Regions from separate parts of the Homo sapiens genome. Here region 1 is linked to region 2. The links come from fine-mapping of genetic effects on gene expression. A gene starts in region 2. The other region holds a variant in brackets. All regions are shown on one strand. Distances are between the middles of the regions.

Region 1 (8,000 bases), 940 kb before region 2:
ACATAGTGGCTGATCGATAAATATTGAATATAAATGTGAATATAGAATTACAGAGTTCTTTGCATACATATTTTTCTCTTACTAGACTATTACAGACTTAAGAAATATATATAGTTGTGCTGGGTGTGGTGGCTCACGCCTGTAATCCCAGCACTTTGGGAGGCCAAGGCGGGTGGATCACGAGGTCAGGAGATCGAGACCATCCTGGCTGACATGGTGAAACCCTGTCTCTACTAAAAACACACAAAAAATTAGCCAGGCGTGGCAGTGGGCACCTGTAGCCCCAGCTACTCAGGAGGCTGAGGCAGGAGAATGGCATGAACCCAGGAGGCGGAGCTTGCAGTGAGCCGAGATCAGGCCACTGCACTCCAGCCTAGACAACAGAGCAAGACTCCGTCTCAAAAAAAAAAAAAAAAAAAAGAAATATAGTTGTAAGGATAAGGGAAGGTCTTTTTCACAGCACCTGGCTTAGTGTCTTGCACACAGCAATGTCTGCCATTGAACTGAGTTATAATTTTCAATTTCATCCTTAAGAAGTTACTAGTTAGTAGCTTCTGCATTCATAAACATAGAGGATCACCACTGTGAATTACATTTATGAAGTCTCAGAAAACTCTTTGTTAAATAAAAACATGGTGGTTTTTCAGAGCATCAATAGAGTAATTTTTGTCAAGCACGGCAGGTTCCCCAGTTCTTCAAACTATTACTTAGAGATAAAACAGCTAGAGACACTGATGGAGCATTGCATCTCTCGAGCAGTGGCTCATAAGCCTAGCTGCACATTAGATTTACCTGGGGACCCTTTGTATTAGTTCGTTCTTATGCTGTTAATAAAGACATACCTGAGACCAGGTAATTTACAAAGGAAAGAGGTTTAATTGACTCACAGTTTTGCAGGGCTAGGGACACCTCAGGAAACTTACAGTCATGGCAGAAGGGGAAGCAAACATATCCTTCTTCGCATGGCAGCAGGAAGAAGAATGAGTGCCTGGTGAAGGGGGAAGCCTTTTATGAAACCATCAGATCTCATGAGAACTAACTCATTGTCATGAGAACAGGATGGGGGAAACTGCCCCATGATTCAATTATCTCCACCTGTTCCCTCCCAGGACATATGGGGATTATGGGAACTACAATTCAACATGAGATCTGGGTGGGGACACAGCCAAACCATATCACCCTTTAAGAAACACTTCTGGAATTTCTCATGCAGAGGGTTAAGAAAACCCCAGAACACTGATGCCTGGACCCACCTACTGAGCCTCTGATTTAATTGATTTGAAGAGGGCCCAAACAACCACATTCCTTAAAAATTCCTCAAGTGATCCTATAGTAGAGAAGCACTGCTTTACAGGAAGAGTATGATTAGGAGAAACAGCACTTTCTTAAGGAAAAGACAAGATCTGGAATAGGAAGCCTTGGATTTTAGACCAGACTCTGAATGGGTTATTAACTTCTCTTTCTGTCTCTATATTCTCAAAAATACAGTATCTAACAAGGCTGTTAGAAAGGAAGAGAAAAATGGCTGTGAAACATTGCATGGTCATTAATTTATATGCAAAAATTTAATACCACCACTAGGACCTTCAATCTCTTAGGTCTTGTTTGATACCTTGATACAGAACCTCACACAGAAACTGATTAATGTCAGCCAAATGAAAACTTACATTTTCATGTTAACAAATCCAAAGTGGAATAAAAGAAGCAATTAGAAAGCAGATGGTGATTCCCCTTTTATAGGAAATGGTCCTAGAGAGATGGACTCGTAACCTTAGGAGCAAAGGCCCTTCCTTGACACTCACTTTAGTTAATTGCTATGTTCACAAACTATTTAATCAACATGAGAGGACAATCAATCTTAATCTCGTTGCTAACACAGGCTAGAAATTCTGGGCCAAAAGTAATTTAACACCGCAGATTTTCATCATCTGACAAAATTTGTCCTTTCATTTTAGAGCTCTTTTGCAAGGTCTTCAGATCCTAAATTAACTCCTGCCAATGCTCAAATACTCTTCCTTCAAGGGAGATGCCTCCAATGCCCCTTATTGCTTTTAAGTGTAAACTCACAATGAAATATGAATTCACCTATCATGATAGATAATTAAAGTCAAATCAATATCTGGACCAACCTTTAAAAATAAGCATGGTCTAAATAAACGAGCATGTCTGAATGTAAACACTATTCTTCCAGCATAGGGGTAAAAAATCCACCTATACATTCGTAATCAGTTTTTTGAAATTACGATTTCCAACAGATATAAGCTAAGTATTGGGTACTGTAGAAGTGCTCTATGGGAGATAAATGTTTTTTCTCTGTCACTTTCCATTAATGATGAGTCTTCCCCACAGCCAAGAGAACACCTGCTGTGGGAAAAGGCTGGACTGAGTTCAGAGAAGCTGACACTTCCTCTCAGAGCCAGCCTGCCCTCATTTGCAGCCCACAGCCTGGTTCAGAGGTCCTTTCAACTTTTCAATATCCAAGACAAGGAGGAAAAAGTCTGGCTGATAAGAAGGGTTTTCCACCAAGTTAGGGCAATGCTATGCATGCAACATTTCTTGCACAAAGACTAACTAGGAAAACTGGGACAAGCACTAGCAATCCTCTATCTTATTTTCAATTATTGAATCTTTAAAGCTAGAAGGGCCCTTACAGCAAGCATCTAGGATAAGCCTCTCAATTCATGAGGCCAGTAAGGTTAAGTGATTTGTCTAATGACTATGGGAACCTCTGAGGCAGAAGTTAGTCTCAAGTTTTCCATCTTCATGCCTACCATGCCACACTATCTTGGTGATATGGTTTGGCTGTGTCCCCACCCAAATCTCGAATTGTAGCTCCCATAATGCACATGTGTCGTGGAAGGGACCTGGTGAAAGGTAATTGAATCATGAGGGTAGGTCTTTAATGTGCTGTTCTTTTGATAGTAAGTCTCACAAGATCTGATGGTTTTACAAAAAGGAGTTCCCCTGCACATGCTCTCTTTCTTGCCTGCCACAACGTAAGACGTGTCTTTTCCTTTTTTTTTAAGACGGAGTTTCGCTCTTGTTACCCAGGCTGGAGTGCAATGGCGCGATCTCGGCTCACCGCAACCTCTGCCTCCTGGGTTCAAGCCATTCTCCTGCCTCAGCCTCCTGAGTAGCTAGGATTACAGGCATGCACCACCACGCCGGGCTAACTTTTTGTATTTTTAGTAGAGAGGGGGTTTCTCCATGTTGGTCAGGCTGGTCTCCAACTCCCAACCTCAGGTGATTTGCCTGCCTCGGCCTCCCAAAGTGCTGGGATTACAGGCATGAGCCACTGCGCCCAGCCATAAGACATGTCTTTTCTTCTCCTTTGCCTTCCGCCGTGATTGTGAGGCCTCCTCAGCCATGTGGAACTGTGAAATCAAACCTCTTTCCTTTATACATTACCAGTCTCGGTATGTCTTTATTAGCAGCATGAGAATGGACTAATACACTTGGAAATCTCTCATGGAACATTTTTAGTGCCAGGTTAGATTCTTGGTCATGGTCAGATGGTAGCCATTGTCCAGTGGGAAGAGTACTGGGCTGGGAATGAGAAAATCTGGGTTCTAGCCTTAGCACTGCTTTGTGTGTTTATGTGTGTGTGTTCTCTTAGAGGCCTGGATTTTTTTTTTTTTTAAGACAAGGTCTCACTCTGTCACCCAGGCTGGAGTGCAGTAGCATGATCATAGCTAACTGCAGCTTCAACCTCCCCAGGCTCAGGTGATCCTCCCACCTCAGTCTCCTGAGTAGCTGCGACTACATGCACGTGCCACCATGCCTGGCTAGTTTTTGTATTTTTTGTGGAGACAAGGTTTCGCCACTTTGCCCAAGCTGGTCTTGAACTTCTGGGCAGGAGAATCACTTGAACCCAGGAGGCGGAGGTTGCGATGAGCCGAGATCACGCCATTGCATTCCAGCCTGGGCAACAAGAGCGAAACTCCGTCTCAAAAAAAAAAAAAAAATAATAATAATAATAATAATAATAAAAAGAAAAGAAAAATAAAAAGAAAAGACACGTCTTACATTGCGGCAAGTCTTGAACTTTGATTCTCCTGCCTCGGCCTCCCAAAGTGCTGGGATTACAGGTATGTGCCACCATGCCTGATGAGGACTGACCTTTTAACTGGTCTCTGCTTCTGTTTGTTCATCTCTCTCTCAGATGCTGATTCAGTCCTATCATCTTTTCTTT[C/G]TTTCTTTTTTTCTTTATCTTTTTTTTTGAGATAGAGTTTCGTTCTTTCTCCCACGCTGGAGTGAAGTGGTGTGATCTTGGTTCACTGCAACCTCCGCCTCCCTCTGCACCCTCCCTTCCCCGGGTTCAAGCGATTCTCCTGCCTCAGCCTCCTGAGTAGCTGAGATTATAGGCGCCCACCACCACGCCTGGCTAATTTTTGTATTTTTAGTAGAGACAGGGTTTTGCCATGTTGGCCAGGCTGGTCTTGAACTCCTGACCTCAGGTGATCTGCGTGTCTTGACCTCCCAAAGCGTTAGGATTACAGGCGTGAGCCACCGTGCGCAGCCACCATCTTTTCTTTCCTTGTACCAGGGGCAGCTGGCGTTGAAGGGTACCAGAGAGCAGTGTTGCTAGTGTTCCACAAATCCATGTTCTCCAACCTCAAGGCTGCTCAAAAAACTCTAACTCATCTCCTAAATTCTAATAGGCTTATTATCAGTCTTTTTGTTTCTATGCTTGCTCTTCTCCAAACTATCTTCCATAAAACAGCCAGAGTTGTCTCTTTAAACGTACATACAACCATGTCATTTCACTACTCACAACTATTTAATGGCGTTCCATTGCACTGTGAGTGAACTCCAAACTCCCTCCATTCCTATGAAGTCTTGCATGTTCTGTTCCTCATATCCCTCTCTGAGCTCAGCTCAGGCCACTCTCCTTTTTGCTCAGAACCTTCTATACAAACTAGTCCCTTTTCAGTTCTTCACACATACCAGGTTTGTTTTTCCTGCTTGTTATGGACTGACCCCACCCCCTACCCCATTCATATGTTGAAGCCCTCCCTAACCCCTACTGTGCCCAATGTGGTTGTATTTGGAGATGGGGCCTTAGAGGAAATAACAAGGCTAAATGAGGTCACAAGGGTGGGGCCCTAATCTGCTAGGATTAGTGTTCTTATAAGAAGAAACACAAAGAGATTTCTCCCTCTCTTCATGTACACACACTGAGGAAAGCCTGTGTGAGGACACATTGAAAAGGCAGCTACCTGCAAGGCAGGAGGAGAGCTCTTATCAGAAACCAAATCAGCTGGCACCTTAATCACAGGATTCTATCCTCCAGGAATGTGAGAAAATAAATTTTTCCTGTTAAAGCCACCCAGTCTGTGGTATGTTGTTACAGAAGCCCCAGTAGGCTAATACACTGCCTTGGAATTTGCCTATGTGATTTCCCACTTTCCAGAGCCTCCTCTTCCACCTCTCTCCTTTCTCTGCTTCTGTACTTTTCATCGAATAGGGATGCCTTCCAACTAGACTACTCTAATGAAACAGCCCTCTCAAAGGTCACCAATTACTGCCATTTCACCAAAACCAATGGATGTTACCACCTTTAGCTTACTGGATCCTCGCTGTTATATGTGACATGGTAGACCCCTCAGTTCTTGAACCTTCTATTTCCTTGACTTTGATTTCACTACTCTCTTTAGGTATTCTTTTTTTTTTTTGAGATGAAGTCTCACTCTGTTGCCCAGGCTGGAGTTCAGTGGCATAATCTTGGCTCACTGCAACCTCTGCCTCCTGGTTTCAAGTGATTCTTGTGCCTCAGCCTCTGAGTAGCTGGGATTATGGGCACGCGCCACCATGCCCAGCTAATTTTTGTATTTTTAGTAGAGATGGGGTTTCACCATGTTGGCCAGGCTGGTCTTGAACCATGACCAGCCCATGACTGAATTCTTTATTTTCCCATCTAAACCGGTCTCTCCTTTAAAATTCTCAATTTCAGTTGGTGCCACCCTTTCCTGAACAAGAAACCTGGGATGATTCTGGACGCTCTCCTCTTCCTCACCCATTGCTTATTTCTTTTCTCCCTACGGACCTCAGGTACCAGAAATGAATTAGGTGTAATCATTGGTTCATGAAATACTCTCATCATTATGTTAATACCTTCATATTAAATAATAACCATACATTACCACGGTTTCTCTTCTTCCTCCAGCCAAAGCTACCTACCTTTCCTTCTTTGAAGTGCTTCTTGAGCTGCCTCTGCATGGCGGTCAGCTTCTTGGACTGCACCCCACTGTAGGCAAGTAGCATGCCACCAAACTGCCTCTCAGTAATTCTCCCATCCACAGGGTCATGGCGTTCAAACTGGGAGGGAAACAGAAAGAATGTTCCTAGGGTCAATGGAAAGTATTTTGACGTGGAACACGGAATGATCAGCTGTGTTTGATGGCAGAAAATAGCTGATGACTGGGACTATATTTTTGAGGTACAATTCTCAGTAAGATCTGCAAAAACTAAGAAACAGAAGATATAGGTTCTTATCCCAGATCTGCCACTTACTATTGTCAGAGACAGTCAAGCCAGAGCAACAGCATCTTGAGTAAGGTCTAGGAAAGATGAGGCTGGGACTTGCTGGGCTGCATTCCCAGGAAGTTAGGTATTCCTAGCCTCTAGATGTTTATGGTTAACGGAACAGATGGATAACATTTACTGATCAGACCCAGACTCAGCAATATCCCGATATCCTGATATCTTATGAATGGAAGCATTCCTAATTTTGCTTTAAAGATAATAATATTGATTACTCTTCTAAAAAATTCATAAAGGTCTGAGAGCATAATTTTAAAGAAGAGTAATATATTTTCAAGTTTCCCCAAAATAGCAATAAAATGTTAGGACATTGATAGAGATAGGACTTACATATGAGACACGAAATAAGAAAGTTAAGAGTGAATTTCTCTTTCAGCTCTCATTTCTTCAGCTAGCTCAGTAAGTTGACAGAGACCTAAATTTGTTTCCTTAGTAGTGGGACTGTGTCAATGAGCAAAACATAGAACTGTATTTTAATACAATTACTTTTGTATCAACCTATAACAGTGACCATTTCCCCCCCACCTTTTTTTTTAAGACGGAGTTTCACTCATCATCCAGGCTGGAGTGCAATGGTGCGATCTTGGTTTACTGCAACCTCTACCTCCCAGGTTCAAGCGATTCTCCTGTCTCAGCCTCCCGAGTAAATGGGATTACAGGTGCACACCACCACGCCTGGCTAATTTTTGTATTTTTAGGAGAGATAGGGTTTCACCATGTTGGCCAGGCTGGTCTTGAACTCCTGACCTCAGGTGATCCACTGGCCTCGGCCTCCCAAAGTGCTGGTATTACAGACATGAACCACCATGGCTGGCCTAACAGTGACCATTTACTGAGTATGTACTATGGGCCAGGTACTTCACCAATATGTTCTTTTTTTTAATTACTTTTTTTTTTGTAAATAGAGATGGGGGTCTTGCTATGTTGCCAGGCTGGTCTTGAACTTCTGGGATCAAGCAATCTGCCTGCCTTGGCCTCCTAAAGTGCTGGGATTACAGGTGTGAGTCACTGTGCCTGGCCTCATATAGTCACTATAACAGCCTACAGAGCAGCTACTATTAGCTCCACTCTGCAGATGAGAAAACTGAAGTAACATGCAGCTACATGTGACAGAGCTGGGATTTGAACTCAGCCTTATTTGGGTCCAAAGACTATCTCTCAACACCACACCATTTCCTACTTCTGAGCAGTGGCACATTCGCTTCCTGTACAATAGCACTGTGTTGTTTTGGATAAACTTATACAGCCATGGGGCTTAGTCACATTTAAATGAGACACAAAACTATGTCTAAAGAAATCAACATCATCAATATTAGGTGAAAGCCTCTTTTTCAACACTGCCACTCAATTTTTGATGTTTGTCACACCATCTTTCTATAGAGCTGATAAATTTTTGACAATACCAAAAGTTTTCAGGATTCAATTTAAGTGTGATTTATGACTCAATTTACTATCCT
Region 2 (8,534 bases):
ACTTTGGAAGGCGAGGCGGGCGGATCACCAAGTCAGGAGTTCGAGATCAGCCTGTCCAATACGGTGAAACCCCATCTCTACTAAAAAATTCAAAAATTAGCCAGGTGTGATGGCACATGCCTGTAAGTCCCAGCTACTTGGGAGGCTGAGGCAGGAGAATCGCTTGAACACGGCAGGCAGAGGTTGCAGTGAGCTGAGATCACACCACTGAACTCCAGCCTGGGCAAAAGAGTGACTCCGTCTCAAAACAAAAAAATTTCATTATATATTACCGTGTAATACTAATAGAAATAAAGTGCACAGTAAATGTAATGTGGTTGAATCATCCCCGCTGCCCCCAGTCTGTGGAAAAATTGTCTTCCACGAAACTGGTCCCTGGTGCCAAAAAGGTTGGGGACTGCTGCCATACACTGTTCACAGTGTTCTCTGGTAACCGTTTTTTTTAATCTGCAAAGCTCCCTTCAAACATTATTTAACTTCTCAGTTTTACAAAAATATATTTTGAGAGCAGGAAAGAAGCAGCCACACAAAATGGTAGTCCACTGGAAAAGGTCTTAATGTATTTCTTATTTAGTCAGATATACTGTCAATTTTACAATACTAAGGGCACAAACAATTTCGATAATAAATTGGATATTTGTTTTTTGGAAAAGGTCTTTTATCTCTCCTTCCTTCCTTTTTTTTTTTTTCAGGCTCTCATTCTGTCACCCAGGCTGGAGTGCAGTGGTGTGATCACAGCTCACTGCAGCTTCAACCTCCCAGGCTCAAGTGATTGTCCCACCTCAGCCTCCTGAGTAGCTGGGACTACAGGCATGCGCCACCACGCCCAGCTAATTTTTGTATTTTTTGTAGAGACAGGGTTTCACCATGCTGTCTAGGCTGGTCTCGACGGCTAGGCTCAAGCAATCCACTCACCTCAGCCTCCCAAAGTGCTGGGATTAAAAGGCATGAGCCACTGTGCCTGTTGAAAAGGCCTTATTTTCTAACTCAATTCAAACATTTACTGAGGACATACTATGCTAAGTGTACTTGGTGATACAAAAGAGAAAACAACATCTTACAGCCTTCAGACTTTATAATTATCCTGCCTCTTCTCAGCTACTCCAGCATTTTTCCAGTCACCTAAAAGTGTCAAATCATTTGTTCAACAACATATTTCTGGGCTCTTTAAGGGCTTTAGTGGCACTGACAACTTCTTTGTCAAATGTACATTTGAAATGCCCTTTTGTATCAGTCTTCTTTCCTTTTCAATAATATGGCATTAGGCCTTCATTACCCTTCTGCTAGACTGTAACAAAAGCCTCCTAACTGGTGTCTCTGACTCCAGTTTCTCACTCTAATTCATCCTGCTTTTGTCAGAATTGCTCATTGAAAAAACTTGTTAAGCTTGGCACTGTGATGGGTGCTGAGGATACAAGAGATAAGATGTGAACTCTCTAACCTCAAGAAATTTAAAATCTAGTGAGGACGAGAGACGTGTAACTAGACCAGGAGTCATAATCTGTGAGACAGGTGCTCTGACAGAGGAAAGAAGGGAGGAGTGAAACACACAGGGAGGAAAAGGGGGGTGGAAATTTATTTTTTCTTTTACAAATAAAAAGAATGAGAGAAGCAAGGAAATTAACTGATTATAGCCAGTGTGCCAAGTGTGCTTCGCATTTATTATCTTAAATGTAGCCTCCCTTCTAAGAGATTCTTAAATCTCTATTTGATTGAAAAAAATTGAGCTTCAGAGAAGTTTGTTATCTTACCAGCAGTCATACAGCAAGGAAGTGCTGAATGAAGCTGGGACCTAGCTGGATTTGAGAATACATATGCATGCCAGGAAAATCTTGGAGGAAGTACGCTGGAACTATGTCTTAATAAAGGGAAGGATATTCCAAGAAAGGGAACAGATTTTAAAACGTTCAGAGGCAAAACAACACACATAGCAAGTAGCAAGTAGCTTGCAGTGGTGGAGTAAGAAGAAATAGGGAGAAAATGAGAAGAGACAAGCAGATAAATACCTTATTAAAGTACAGATCTGATCGTATCACTGTCTTGTTCCCTCTCACCTACCAAATAAACTGTAACACTACAGTTTAACTGTAGTTAAATGTAGTACTACATTCAGGGCTTTCTAGGATCTTGCAGTGCCAGTCAACTCCCCTCTTCTAGCTTATGCTCTTGCTTAGTATTTTTCAAAGATTACCTGCATTTAGTCGCTTTTGAACCTTTGCATTTTTCCTTCCCCCTGGAATTATCTCTCCCTTTCTCCTCACTCCGTCTCTACAGCAAATCCTACTCATCCTTTAAAATCCAGCTCAAATGCTTCCTAGTCCATGAAGCTTCCCAGTCGGAAAAACTTGCCTTTCCTCTGAATTCATTTAGCACTTTACACGTCTTTTGTGGCATTACCACAAGCTGTCCTGTTTATGAAGACTGGGTATTCAAAAGACCTTTCCTACTTAACAACTATGTGCCCCTAGGCAAATGCCTAACTTCTCTAAGCCTCAGTTTCACCTTCTGTAAAATGGATAACTTCCAACCTGTTTCACATTTATTGTGAATATCCCCTAAGATATTAAAGCTTTTTAAGTATGAAGCACTGCACAAATGGTATTATTAATATGCAGCGTTTGTCCTGAGAGCTCATTTACACCCTTGAAGGCATGTAACCTGTCTCACGCATATTTACGGGCCCAGAGTGCCTGGCACCATGTCTTGTACACAACAGGCGTTCGCGTCGTGTTTGAATTATGAATGCAAGATATAGGACTAAAGTTATAGTCAGGGCAGCTAGGGTGGGGACTCTTGTTGCCCCCGGCAAGGCACGCATTTCTTGTCATCTGCTCGGAAGAAGCTGCAAGGGGAGAGTCCAGTGAGAAAAAGGTTAGACGAAGGAGGCGATGTGACTGAGTCTGGTCTGGGGACAAGCGCAGTCAGCGCAGAATGAGGAGGCCTCCGACGAGAAGCGGTAAAGGAAGGTCTACGTCCGCGCTCCTGTGGAGGTCGCCGGGCTGGGGTTGGCGGCAGAGTCCGCACCTGGCCGGGCCAGCGGCTTTTCGGTCTAAATATCGGGGTTTTCAGCCTGGCCTTAGCTAAGGGAGCAGAAGATCGGGGTGACGGCTGTGGTGTGGCCGCAGGGCTGAGGTGGGGAGGCCGGGAAGAGAGAGTTTCTTCAGGAGGGATCACTGTCTTACCTGCAGCAGCCTCAGTTATGTTTTTGACAACTATAGCAACCAACTACCTCTCGCGAGAACTTACTTTTGGCCATCGCACGAGCAAGTTTATTCCAAGACTCGCGATAACCCTCTGGGGCCGGGAGCAGGGAGCGAGACGCTGAGCTTCTGCGCCTGCGCCCTAGCGCCGGCTGCAGCCTCCTCACTTCGAGAGCCTGCTGTTTCCGCGGATGCTTTACCTTGCCAAGAGTTGGGTTTAAGTGCATAGGTTTCCACCTTTACATTTTGCTTTCTCGACTCTTTGATTTCAATATTTCTCTATAATAGGAGGGAAAAAAGCAAAAGGAAGTTTAAAGAAAAAGGCCTTTATTAAACTGATTTGAAAACATCATTTAAATATTTCTCCGTGAAATATGCAATATTTTTTAAATGAGCCCGTCACGCCCTGTTGATGAGAGTGCAAAATGACCCTGCTTCTAGGTGCTCAATATTTGTACAATAAACAGACCTGAAGTTTATGATGTTAATACAAATTTTTAATATTCAAAATTTAACATTAAAGAGCTAGAATAGCAAAACACAATAGCAATAACCTGGAAACAACCCAAGTGCCCGTCGAAGGAATAGTGGATGAGTGGACCAATAAACTGTGGCATATTCACAAAATGGCATATTACAAGCAGTCAAAGTTAATGAACTGCAGCCATACACACAACACGGATGAATTTTAGCAGTATATATACTTTAAATTGTTGCAGTGTTAAGAGCCAGCTTGAAGGGACTCCCATGGGCCAAATAAGGGACAATTTGAGCATGAAGTAAACAACGACGATAACGGATTACAACCCATTGAATAAAATAGGAATATGCAAGTCCGTGTTGATACAGAGAAAAAGGAAAACTCTTTCAAAGTAGGATGCCAACCCAGAAGTGTAGCGAGAAGGATGGAAATAGAGAACTACCATTTGACAACTACTGAGGAGGATGACTCAGGCAGGAGTCTTCAATGGACGCTAAGGCTGGTGGGTAGATGTTCTATGAGGCATAGAATACTGGCGTGATTTTGGAATGCTTCCATGGAATACTACTTGATTACAGAGGGGGAAACAGTGAATGGACGCAACCAACATGATCAGGTGATCATGGTTAACATCACCAGTGTTGGGAGGAGTCTACATTGTGAGCCTCCTGGTGAAACACACTAAAAAAAAACACACACACACACACAAAGCATCCTTTTTGGTTTTCCTACCATGAAAGGAACTCAGGTTGTAGACCATCCAAGGACAAGAAAGACTGGGAACTGTCTCTGACTGAGGTTATATGACAACTAAATTCAATATGTATCTCTGTATAGCATTCTGGACCAGAAAGGAAAACAACATTGTTAGGACGGTGGGAAAAATGTGAATTAGCTCTGTGAATCGCATACCACCCCGAACATGCCCAATCTCATCTGAATTGGATGGTAGTGTTGTACCAATATTGATTTCCTGATGTGGAAGTTTGTTTGTTGTTAGGTAGGAGAGTGTCCCTGTTTAGGGGAAAATAAACACTAGTGTGTTTAGGAGTGATGAGACACCATCTCTTCAATTTGCTCTCTTGACTTTCAAAAGGTCCAGAAAAAGACTAACAAGGGATACATACACATGTACACACACATATGCACATGCATGCACACCTGCACACATACACACACAGTGAGCAATGGAACAAGTGCAATAAAGTGTTAACTATTTGGGAATCTGAGTGCAGGGGACATGGGACTTCCTTACACGATTTGGGCAACTTTTCTATACATTCGAGATCATTTCAAAACAATTAAAATATATACACACGCATAACCACTCTCCCTGGGAAGCCCTTTGCTTAGGAAATAGTTACCAGAGTCAAATTTTAAAATTTTTATTTATATGAATAAAGAAACATTATAAATATTGAGAAATATTTTTTGAAAGTTGCAGTGTTACAGGTAATAAAGGTTCTCAAAATAAAACTACTGTGGCACTACTGAGTAAGGATTTCTCTCTGGATTTTTTTTCCCAAGTGAGAGTTTTGGGTGAATTTGCACTGAGACAGCTATCCCACTTGCAAATGACAGACTCTTTCTACATAATAAGCTGGGTTAGGCCAAGTCTTTAATAGGGAGCTGTTCTTCCAGAAATCGCTCATGATCTTGGTCTACTTAGTACTTTGCTTCAAGGTCTTAGGCAAGCAAGGATAAATAACAGATGTCACCTCCTTAAACATAATTAATCTCCATTCAACTTTAGGGTACCTGAGAGCAAGGGCTGTATGTTACAATTTTCTTTTTTTTTTTTTTTAAGATGGAGTCTCACTCTGTAGCCCAGGCTGGAGTGCCGTGGCGCAATCTGGGTTCACTGCAACCTCCACCTCCTGTGGTCAAGTGATTCTTGTGCCTCAGCCACTGGAGTAGATGTGATTACAGGCACCCATCACCACGCCCGGCTAATTTTTGTATTTTTAGTAGAGACAGGGCCATGTTGGCCAGGCTGGTCTTGAACTCCTAACCTCAGGTGATCCACCTGTCTCAGCCGCCTAAAGTGCTGGGATTACAGGCATGAACCACCATGCCCGGCCTTTTTTTTTTTTTTTTTTTCTTTATTGAGACAGTCTTGCTCTGGAGTTCAGTGGCATGATATGATCTCGGCTCACTGCAACCTCTGCCTCCCGGGTTCAAGTGACCCTCCCACCTCAGCCTCCCGTGTGTGTGTGTGTTACAGTTCTTTTATTCTCCTACAGTGCTTAGCAGTGGCCACTCTGTTTGAAAGGCATTCTTTTTGACTGATTTAAAACATCCACTTGTGTATGGAAAAAGCCCTCTTTAGTGGTATGGAAAATATAATAGTACTGGAATCATAATAAAATCATCTACATATGCAAACCAATTTCAGGGAAAAAAACTATAAAAATATCTTTCTAATAAAATTTGAATGCCTTAGTCTGAGTTTCAAAGGCCTCCATTAAATGATGCACTAGCTCAACAAATTCCTTTCTCATTACTCCAAAAGACTTGTTTCTAATTAGCTAATTTGTTACTTCCAAAGTCAACATATTTCTGACAATAATACAATCAAATGTATTGCTCATCCCCAAATTGATCTACAGATTGAAAGCAATCACTATGAAAACCCCAACTGTTTTTTTTTTCTTTCAGAAATTAACAAGCTGATCTTAAAATTCATATGGAAATGCAAGGGACCCAGAGTAGCCAAAACAATCCTGAAACAGAAGAACAGTTGGAAAACTCACACTTCCCAATTTCAAAACTTTCTACAAAGCTGCAGTAATCAAGTAACGAAGACAGTAATAAAGACATAAAGATAGCCATATAGATCAAAATAATCAATTGAATTGAGAGTTCAGAAATAAACTCTTACATTTACGGTCAACTGATTTTTAACAAGAGTGCCAAGATGATCTACTGGGATGTGGGAGGGAGGGGGTAATATAGTCTTTTAAACAAATGGTACAAGGAAAAACAATGTCCACATGCAAAGAATGAAGTTGGACCCTTACCTCACACCATATACAAAAAATAACTCAAAATGGACCAAAGACCTAAATGTAAGAACTAAAACTATAAATTTGAGGGTTTTCTATTTCTGTGAAGAATGTCATTGCAATATTGATAGAGATTGTGTTGAATCTGTGGAGCACTTTGGGAAGTATGAACATTTTAATAATGTTAATTATTCTAATCCATGAACATAGGATACTATTTGTGTCTTCAGTTTCTTTCATCAATGTTTTGTAGTTTTCATTGTAGAGATCTTTTGCCTACTTGGTTAAAACTTCCTAGGGTTTTTGTTTTGTTTTTTGTAGCAATTGTGAATGGGATTGCTGTTTTCTTTTTCAGATAGTTCACTATTGGCATATAGAAATGCTACTGATTTTTGTATGTTGCTTTTGTATCCTGCAACTTTACTGAATTTATTACTTCTAGCAGTTTTTTGGTGGAATCTTTAGGGTTTTGTGTGTATAAATTCATGTCATCTGCAGACAGGAAGTTTGACTTCTTTCTTTCCAATTTAGATGCCCTTTGTTTCTTTCTCTTGCATAATTACTGTGGCTAGGACTTCCAGTACTATGTTGACTAGAAGTAGTGAAAGTGGCTATCCTTGTCTTGTTCCAGATTTTAGAGAAAAAGCTTTCAACGTGTCCTCATTCAGTATGTTAGCTGTGTGTCTGTCATACATGGTCTTTATTTACAAACTATGCATCTGACAAGGGGTTAATGTCCAGAGTATATAAGAAACTCAACACCAAAAAAAAAAAAAAAATCCAAAAAAAAAACCCCACAAATAATCTGATTTTAAAATGGACAAAAGATCTAAATAGACATTTCTTGAAAGTATACAAATGGCCAACAGATATATGAAAAAATGCTCAACATCACTAAATGTGATGGAAATGCAAATAGTGTATCTACACAAACCTAGATAGCGTAGCCTGCCACATACCTAAGTCATATAGAGTATATCCTATTGCTTCTAGGCAACAAACAGGTATGGCATGTTATCATACCGAATACTGTAGGCAATTGTAACACAATGGTAAGTACTTGTGTATCTAAACATAGAAAAAGTACAGTAAAAATATGGCATAAAAGATAAATAGTACACCTGTAGAAGGCACTCACAATGAATGGCACTTGCTGGCCTAGAAGTTGCTCTGGGTGAGTGAAGGAATGAGTAGTGAGTGAATTGTGAAGGCCTAGGACATTACTGTATACTACTGCAGACTTAACAAACACTATATAATTAGGCTACACTAAATTTATTTTAAAACTTTTTAATAATAAATTTAATTTAGCTTACTGTAACGTTTTTGCTTCCTAAACATTTTTTTTTCCCTTGGAGACACGGTCTCATTCTGTCACCCATGCTGGAGTGCAGTGGCATGATCATGGCTCACTGCATTCTCAGTCTCCTTGGGCTCAAGCAAACCTCCTGCCTTTTTGTATTTTTTGTAGAGATGGGGTTTCACCATGTTGCTCAGGCTGGTCTTGAATTCTTGGGCTCAAGTGATGCACCTGCCTCGGCCTCCCTAAGTGCTGAGACTACACGCGTGAGCCACTGCACTCAGCCTAAACTTCTTAACTTTTTGACTCTTACAGCTATACAAAAATATTTTCTGTATGTCCTTATAAGCTTTTTATTAAAAAATTATTTTTTACAGGCCTTCTACAGGTGTACTCATGCCTGTAATCCCAGAACTTTGGGAGGCTGAAGTGGGTGGATCACAAGGTCAGGAGATCAAGACCATCTGGCTAACATGGTGAAACCCCGTCTCTACTAAAAATACAAAAAATTAGCCAGGTGTGGTGGCGGGCACCTGTAGCCCCAGCTA

What was found. PIP is the estimated chance that this variant, and not a neighbour inherited with it, causes the effect.
Region 1: its variant is the best candidate, but not a certain one, in a credible set for the expression of CFAP70 in whole blood (INTERVAL, PIP 0.74).

The regions. Positions count from the first base shown.
Region 1 is chr10:72,417,054-72,425,053 of GRCh38, forward strand. It overlaps MICU1 (mitochondrial calcium uptake 1), which reads right to left. Exons shown (of 12, transcript NM_001195518.2): 9 at 6,181-6,318. Among named protein-coding and RNA genes, the nearest start is that of DNAJB12, 66 kb to the left of the region's middle. RefSeq lists an enhancer at 5,500-6,233. The variant C/G (reference allele first, on the strand shown) is at 4,193.
Region 2 is chr10:73,355,532-73,364,065 of GRCh38, forward strand. CFAP70 (cilia and flagella associated protein 70) reads right to left here and starts at 3,333. Exons shown (of 28, transcript NM_001367801.1): 1 at 3,247-3,333. RefSeq lists enhancers at 2,476-3,001, 2,938-3,157, 3,002-3,527.